Homo sapiens: one gene and its partner. The protein of the gene in region 2 interacts with the protein of the main gene of each other region in a pairwise test. Each region holds a gene or a part of one and is shown on either strand. Other genes may lie near its edges. The genes, in order: HUNK and ZNF662.

What was found.
Region 1: the proteins of ZNF662 (region 2) and HUNK interact in a two-hybrid assay, tested with the Homo sapiens proteins (one large-scale study listed by BioGRID and IntAct).

What each region holds. Positions count from the first base shown.
Region 1 is NC_000021.9:31,994,924-31,998,745, reverse strand, and holds part of HUNK (hormonally up-regulated neu tumor-associated kinase), read right to left. Parts: intron 2,979-3,822; coding exon 2,798-2,978; intron 221-2,797; coding exon 1-220.
Region 2 is NC_000003.12:42,912,583-42,916,404, reverse strand, and holds part of ZNF662 (zinc finger protein 662), read right to left. Parts: intron 3,205-3,822; coding exon 3,103-3,204; intron 2,079-3,102; coding exon 1,051-2,078; 3' UTR 1-1,050. UniProt on the Homo sapiens protein: May be involved in transcriptional regulation.

The DNA of each region.
Region 1 (3,822 bases), on a different chromosome or scaffold from region 2:
TCGTCGCGATCCACAGACTCGAAGGAGCGCACCATGTCCAGCATCAGGGGGTCTTCCTTGTGGGGGATGCCAGTGCTTCCGGGCCCTGGCTGATGGGGCTCCGGTTTCTTCACAATCCTCGGGGTCCTGGGCGGTGGCACGGGGATGAACTCCATGGAAGAAGAAGCCACACAATTGGAATCTGAGGTTTTGCGGAAAATATTGCGGCAGCCAAAGGAATCTGCACACCAAGAAAGCATAAACAATCATGAGGACGTCCGGACAGTGCTCACGGCCCTTCTCCTGCCTGCTGTGACCTCCAGCTTAACTGAGACAGTTCCCGCCAAGGTCAGAAGAAACCAACCGGCAAACAGCCTTGGCTACTTTGCAAAAGTCACCAGCAGCATGTCACTCTCCCCACAGAGGTCGGGCAGTCTTCCTAGGATGGAGGGACAGAGGGCTGGCGACAGGACGTCTCCTGGATTCCAATTTGCCTCATGGCCCCAGCCTAACATCGTCCCTGCTTTTGGTTGCTTAAAATTCTGGACCCTAGGCAGCGGTGGCTCACGCCTGTGATCCCAGCACTTTGGGAGGCCAAGGTGGGAGGACTGCTTGAGCCCAGGAATTCAAGACCAGCGTGAGCAATATGGCAAGACCCCGTCTCTAAAAAAATTTTAAAAAATTAGCAGGGTGTGGTGGCATGCACCTGTGGTCCTAACTACTTGGGAGGCTGAGGTGGGAGGATCACCTGAGCCTGGGAAGTGGAGGCTGCAGTGAGCCGTGATGGCACTACTGCACTGCAGCCTGGGTGACAGAGTGAGACTCTGTCTCAAAAAAAGAAAAAAAAGAAAAAAAAATTCTGGACCTTGCCAAAGGATCTTGGAATAAAAAAGGTACATGCACTCAACAGCACATCCATAAAACTCCCAGAAGCACACCAAGGTCCCTTGACTGAATTCCTGCCAATCTGGTCCTTGGACAGCCCACAGTGGAAGACATGTTTCCCTTGTGACATTTAAAAAATTTATTTATTGTGGTAAAAAACACGTAGCAGAAATGTTATCATCTTAACCATTTTTAAGTGTACAGTTCAGCAATAATAAGTATATTCACACTGTTGTAGAATCAATCTCCAGAACTGTCTTCCTGTTGCAAATCTAACACCCCATATACATCCCCATTCTCTGAAACCCCCAGCAACCACCATTTTACTGCCTGTCTCTATGAATCTAACCACTCTAGGGACCTCATATAAGTGGAATCACACAGTATCCGCCTTTAGGGACTGGCGTAATTCACTTAGCATAATGTCCTCCAGGTTCATCTGTGTTGGAGCATGTGCCAGGATTTCCTTCCCTTTTAAGGCTCCCTCGTGACTTTTGATCTGGATGGAACCTCATCCAATTCTGAACGGGGGAAGAATATCATCCATCCATACAGTTAAGGCAACCTGCCAGATCCCCATGGTTTCTGTCTCTGGTTGGCATAGACTAGAATCCAGGTTTGGAAACTGGGCCAGAAAAGAAAGGGGAAACCCCCTACAGATTTGGGGATGAGGGAAATAAAGCCAAGTTCATGCGGAATAAGCTCTGTCTTAGCTTCTTTCTTCTCCCATAACGTTTTATAGGCTCTGTGGAGGCCCAGCTGCAGGAGCAAGCTCCTGCCCACTGGGATCGATTTTGGGAGTGGCTGAGGGCACTGGGAAGCCTCCCTGCCTTGCAGAAATAAACACACAGGCACCGAAATGAAAGGCCGGCGCAGGCACCTGAGATGCATCAGCAGAAAGAAGTAAAACTTCATTAATGGCCAAGGTCTCCAGTGTTCCAGCTGCCACATGGACACTGCTGCCCCTCCCCGATCCACTGCATGCTCTGCCCCAGGGAAAGCAGGTTGCTTTGGGCAAAGTGGGTACAGTGGCTTCTCTCCGGGAGCAGCATGGGAGATAGAAGGACAGGAGGCAGGTTCAAGTCCCGCTCAGGGACTAACTGCCCGCTACACCTGAGTGTATCTCAGACAGCCACGGCCCTCTCTGAACCTGGTCTTTCATATTTTAGGAGATTGAACTCCAAGAAGTGTCTCATCCCCCTCAGTAATAAGAACCTCTCCTCTACTTCATGGCTCTGCTTCAGGACGCCCTCAGCTCCTGTGTCCCCTCTTGGCGTTTCTACCATGTGTTAAGCCTGTGCCCAGTAAGGTCTGCCTTTTGCATCTTTTAGCACTCGTCCCAGAGGAGGGAAACATATTTGTCAGTTATCTGTGATGGGCTGGATTCTGACTCAGGTGAGGGAGCTTATATATGCATCTCATCTCATCTACCCAACAGCTCCAACAGGTGGGAGGCCTTACAAATAATCCAGTGAAGATCCTCAGCACTAAAGGAACTTGGACCTCTGCAGGCAGTAGAGCTGGGATTTGAACTCAGGGAGATACCCGGTCTCTGCTCTGCACCCCATCTCTACTCCCACAATTCCTTACAGCCTCATCTCTGCCCCTGCAGTACCACACACCCTGATCTCTGCTCCTGCAATACTGTGCCTCCCAACCTCTGTTCTGACAATATCATCCACCCCAATTTCTGTTTCCGTAATACTTTGCACCCCATCTCTGTTTTCTCAAATTCTTCCTGCACAGATGGCTAATGCCACACAGCTTGGTCCTGGACTGTGCTCAGGCAACCTCAGGTCCATTAATCCTGCTTTTCTGTGGGCACAGGAATCATCTCTGCTCTAGGGCCCATTCGACCATCCCCTGTGAGGGCTACACAGCGGACACACAGCCCAACACGAGTGGCCTGAGAGAGTCCCCAGAGCTGACCCACCTTTGTCGGGGAAGCTGGACTTGGAGGCCTTCCGGTCCTTCAGGAGGGCTTTGGTGTTCTGAATCTGTGTCATAAGCGAGCCTGAGGGCTGTTTGTGCGAGGGCAGGTTCTTGTCCAACTTCTTGGAGAATGGTCGATGAAGAAAATCCCCTCTTTTTTCTTGTTCTTTGGGCTTTTTATCCTACAAATCAGAAGCAAACATATGCACTTAGACACATACTAGAAGACACAATGGGATTCCTCTTTGAAAAGTCATCCAAACTGATTAGAGAAACTCCACCTTTTCAATACTCTATGCTCTCAACTGTGTGTTGAATGAGGGAGGAGCTGTGGCCCAGCCAATGCTCCAGGAAGCCCATCTCCCTCTGCCTGGGCAGCGAGAGGCCTTCAATGGACCCCAGTTCCCTTTCACTGTGCTCTTCCAAGGCATTCCAGCAAGGGCAGGGCATTCCTAGGAGGTCAATTCTTCTGGAACAAGCCCAACAAACCAAGGTGAAGCAGAGCAGGACTTCTGGAAACCCACTGTCTACATTTAAAGATTGTGCCTGCAATAACGGCTTTGCAAAGGCAACTGGAAACATAACTGCTTCCACCTTCACATCAGGTTCTATTTGGGGCAGTCAAGCCAAGGAGGTGCCAACACAACATATACAACAAATCCAGAGAGCCCTGAGCGGTCCTGATGGGCTTCCAGCCCTTTCTACCCTAATCGTGTGAGCACTTACTTGCGTACTTAGTACTCGTGTGTATGAACGTGTGTATGAAGCTTTTTTTTTTTTTTTTTTTTTTTGAGGCAGGGTCTTGTGCTATCACCCAGGCTGGGGTGCAGTGGTGTCATCATATCTCACTGCAACCTCGAGCTCCTGGGCTCAAGTGATCCTCCCACCTCAGCCTCCTGAGTAGCTGGGACTACAGGTGTGCATCACCATGCCCAGCTATTTTTTAAAAAAAGATTTCTTGTAGAGATGGGGTCTCGTTATGTTATCCAGGCTGGTTTTGAACTCCTGCCTCAAGCAACCCTCCTG
Region 2 (3,822 bases):
CAACAGAGTGAGACTCTGTCTAAAAAAAAAAAAAAAAAAAAAAAGACCTGGATTACCCTCTGCTGTTTCCCTAAATTACTTTGGTGGCCTCAAAAGGAAAGCAACTTCTGAAGAAAAGGTCTTAGAGTTCACAATTTAACTGCAATGTTGCTTCCATCAAATAAGGTTTTCAGTGAGACAGAATTATGAAAAGCAATACTAATAAACACTTGTATACAAAGAGTATCTACAGAGATACACAACCAGTAGCAGTGATTGCCTCTGGGGAGAACTCAAGAGATAGGAATGACAAGGAAATTTACTTTTCACTGAACACCCTTTTCAACTATTTCAATTCTTTTTTATCATGAGCATGTTATATCTAGTCAAAGATTAATGTTTCAGGATTTGAAAAACATAAAAGAAATGTACTGTTGGTCCTCAGAGTCATTTAGCTGGGGTTAAGATTAAAAGACATGAGACTATTAGAAAAATATAAGATGGCACATAATTAAATACTAACTTGGGTGGTACTGATTACAAGTAGAAGAGGAAGAGAGATCTTCTTAGTTGAAGGAGCTAGATCTGAGTGATGAAGGGAAACTAAAAGCACAGGAAAATAAGCAAATAAAAATGGGCAGAGACATAAATATGTACAATTAAGTAAAGAACAGTAAACTCTGCAGTCAGATAGGCCTGGCTCCAATTTCAACTCTATAACTTACTAACTGAGCAACCCTGAATGAGTTTTATAACCTCTTTCAACTCAGATTTCTCATTTGTAAAATGGGGAGAAGAGCACCTACCTTAATAGGATTGTTATGCAAATTAATGTATGTAAAGTGGTTAGCACCTGATACAGAGTAGCTGCCCAACTAAATGATGCCTTGTTAAAACATCATAGAACAGAGGGACCAGTCTTGCTAGAGTACATGGTAAATGTTCAAAAGGGCAAGATAATACTGGCTATTTAAGTTAAGGGTTACAGCAAATTGTGAATGGTCATCTCATTTTGTCTCTAGGGTTCCTGCAGCATAAGAATTATAAACAAGTATCACCATTATGCACTCTCTAATGTTCAAGAAGGTGAGAGATCTGACAGTTATAGGGTTTGTCTCTAGCATGGCGCCTCTGGTGCTTAATTAAGACAGAATTCTGACTGAAGGCCTTCCCACAGTCATTACATTTATAGGGTCTTTCCCCAGTATGGATTCTTTGATGTCGAATAAGATGTGCCTTGCAAAAGAAGCTTTTCCCACAGTCAGTACATTCATGAGGCTTGTCCCCAGTGTGGACCCTCTGGTGCTGAGAAAGATCTGAGTTCCACATGAAGCCCTTCCCACAGTCCTTACATTCGTAAGGCTTCTCCCCAGTGTGCATTCTCTGATGTCGAAGAAGGGCTGGGTTTCGAGTAAAGCTTTTCCCACATTCCTTACATGTGTATGGTTTCTCACCAGTGTGGATCCGTTGATGTTGCGTAAGGCTTGTGTTCTGACTAAAGCCCTTCCCACATTCCTTACATTCAAAGGGTTTCTCTCCAGTATGTATTCTCTGGTGACGAATCAGGTTTGACTTCCAAACAAAGGCCTTAGCACATTCTTGACATTCATAGGGTTTCACCCCACTGTGAATTCTCTGATGTGCAATGCAATGTGATCGAAAACTGAAAGCCTTCCCACATTCCTTACATCCATAGACCTTCTCTCCATTATGAGTTTTCTGGTGTTGATCAAAGTCCTCATTTTGATCAAAACACTTGCCGCATTCCTCACATATATAGAATATTTGCTCATTTAGAATTTTGTGATGTATACCAAGGAGGTTATTGACATCAGTATTCCCTGAACTCTCTTCTACTGAGATCATCTCATCCTTGACAATCACTTCTATAATATCATTTGTAGAACTTTCCATACGTCCCCCATTGAGGTAACCAGGCCATCTCCCTAACCTGCTTTTCTCTTCACAGGTTTTCCCAAACCATAATTCCTGGGATCCACACCACTGGGGTCCACTTGATAGGACCATGAGGTCCTGTGCTTCCTCAATAATTTCCTCCTTCAGAATAAAATCTTCTTTCTTCCTCTTCAACACACCCTCTGAAAAAAGAAATTGGAGCTTCAAATGTCATCATTATCCATGACACAGCGACTAAGGTCACCAAGTGGTATTAATACGTCCACTTCTCTCCAAGTGCCACCCATGTCTCAGTGGCCCTGTCCCAGCTGAAAATGGCAAAAACAAGGCTAATACACAGAAAGAAACCAAAAGTAAAGACAGCAACTAGATAGAATCCCTGCGGGCTATGATTCCTGGCACCAAACCAAGGACCAGGGTAGGCTCTCAGAAAACAGGTGAATTGAATCTAAGGAAAACAAAGTCAGAATTCCTCCTAGGTAGCTGAGTACAGTTTATACCATGAGAAGAACAGGCCAGGACTTAGGGCAGAGGACCTGTTCAGAAATAAGGAATCCTTAGTGGTATACCTGAGAACCTGGGCTTGTCACATGCAGCAGACAGTAGCAAGAATGAGCTTCCTCATACTTTTCAACACTAAAAGGAAGTATAGTCTTCTCTTTCAATCCAAGCACCAAGTTCACCATGAAACCATGGGAAGTGCTTTCTCAAACTACTCCAGGCAGAACTCGGAAAAGACTCCCTCCTCTTTGTTCTCATAGTGTCTTATTCACATTCTGTTACAGTTTCATCATTTTTCTGTAATTATACATTTATGTATCATGTCCCATGAGACTGTGAGTCCTTCCAGGATAAGGGCCATATATGACTTGATTTTTTTTATCTCTAACAACTAACACAATGAGTAAAATACAGCATCTACATTAAAAATATTGGGTGATCATAGCAGCTAGATGGGGCAGGCCATCTGTTCAGTTTAAGTCTAACGCAAAAGACCCATCCTAATTTAATTAATTTAATTAATTGAGCTTGTCCTAATGAAAGTTGGAAGCTTAGGGTTTAAGTTTTCTCTTAATTGGTTGATTTAAGGATCTGGTCCCCATATTTGTTTAGAACATGAATGGCAAAATGGACTTTTACATCTTATAAAAGAAAGATAGGAAAAGATGTGACTGAGAGAAGAATGCTCATTTCCCTCTCACTTACCCGGACAAATCAGGCTTGGACCCTCTCCTTGCAGTTTCAGGTTTAATGGCTCTTCCACCTGCTCAGGATGGGAAATCCCAGCAGGCTTTAGAAATGGATATCCTGCCAGGGTCAAGATACAAATAAGGCTGACTCAGTCAGAAGAGTGAGGCCCATCAGGAAAAGAGCAGACATGGAAGTGGTAGGGAGAGAATAAAGGTGGGTGAAAAGATTGGTAACATAGATAAGCAGAAATTTGATGGTACAGAATAATAAGGATAGGCTGGGCGTGGTGGCTCACACCTGTATTCCCAGCACTTTGGGAGGCCGAGGTGGGTGGATCACCTGAGGTCAGGAGTTCAAGACTAGCCTGGCCAACATGGTGAAACCCCATCTCCATTAAAAATACAAAAAAAATTAGCCAAGCATGGTGGCACACACCTGTGGTCACAGCTCCTCAGGAGGCTGAGGCAGGAGAATCGCTTGAACCCGGGAGGCAGAGGTTGCAGTGAGCCGAGACTGTGTCACTGCTCTCCAGCCTGGGCGACAGAGTGAGACTGTGTCTCAAAAAATATATATATATATATTTATATATATAAAAAATATATATATATATTTATATATATAAAATATATATATATTTATATATATAAAAAATATATATATATATTTATATATATATAAAATATATAAATATATATTTTATAGAAAAATATTTGTATTTTATATAAATATATTTAT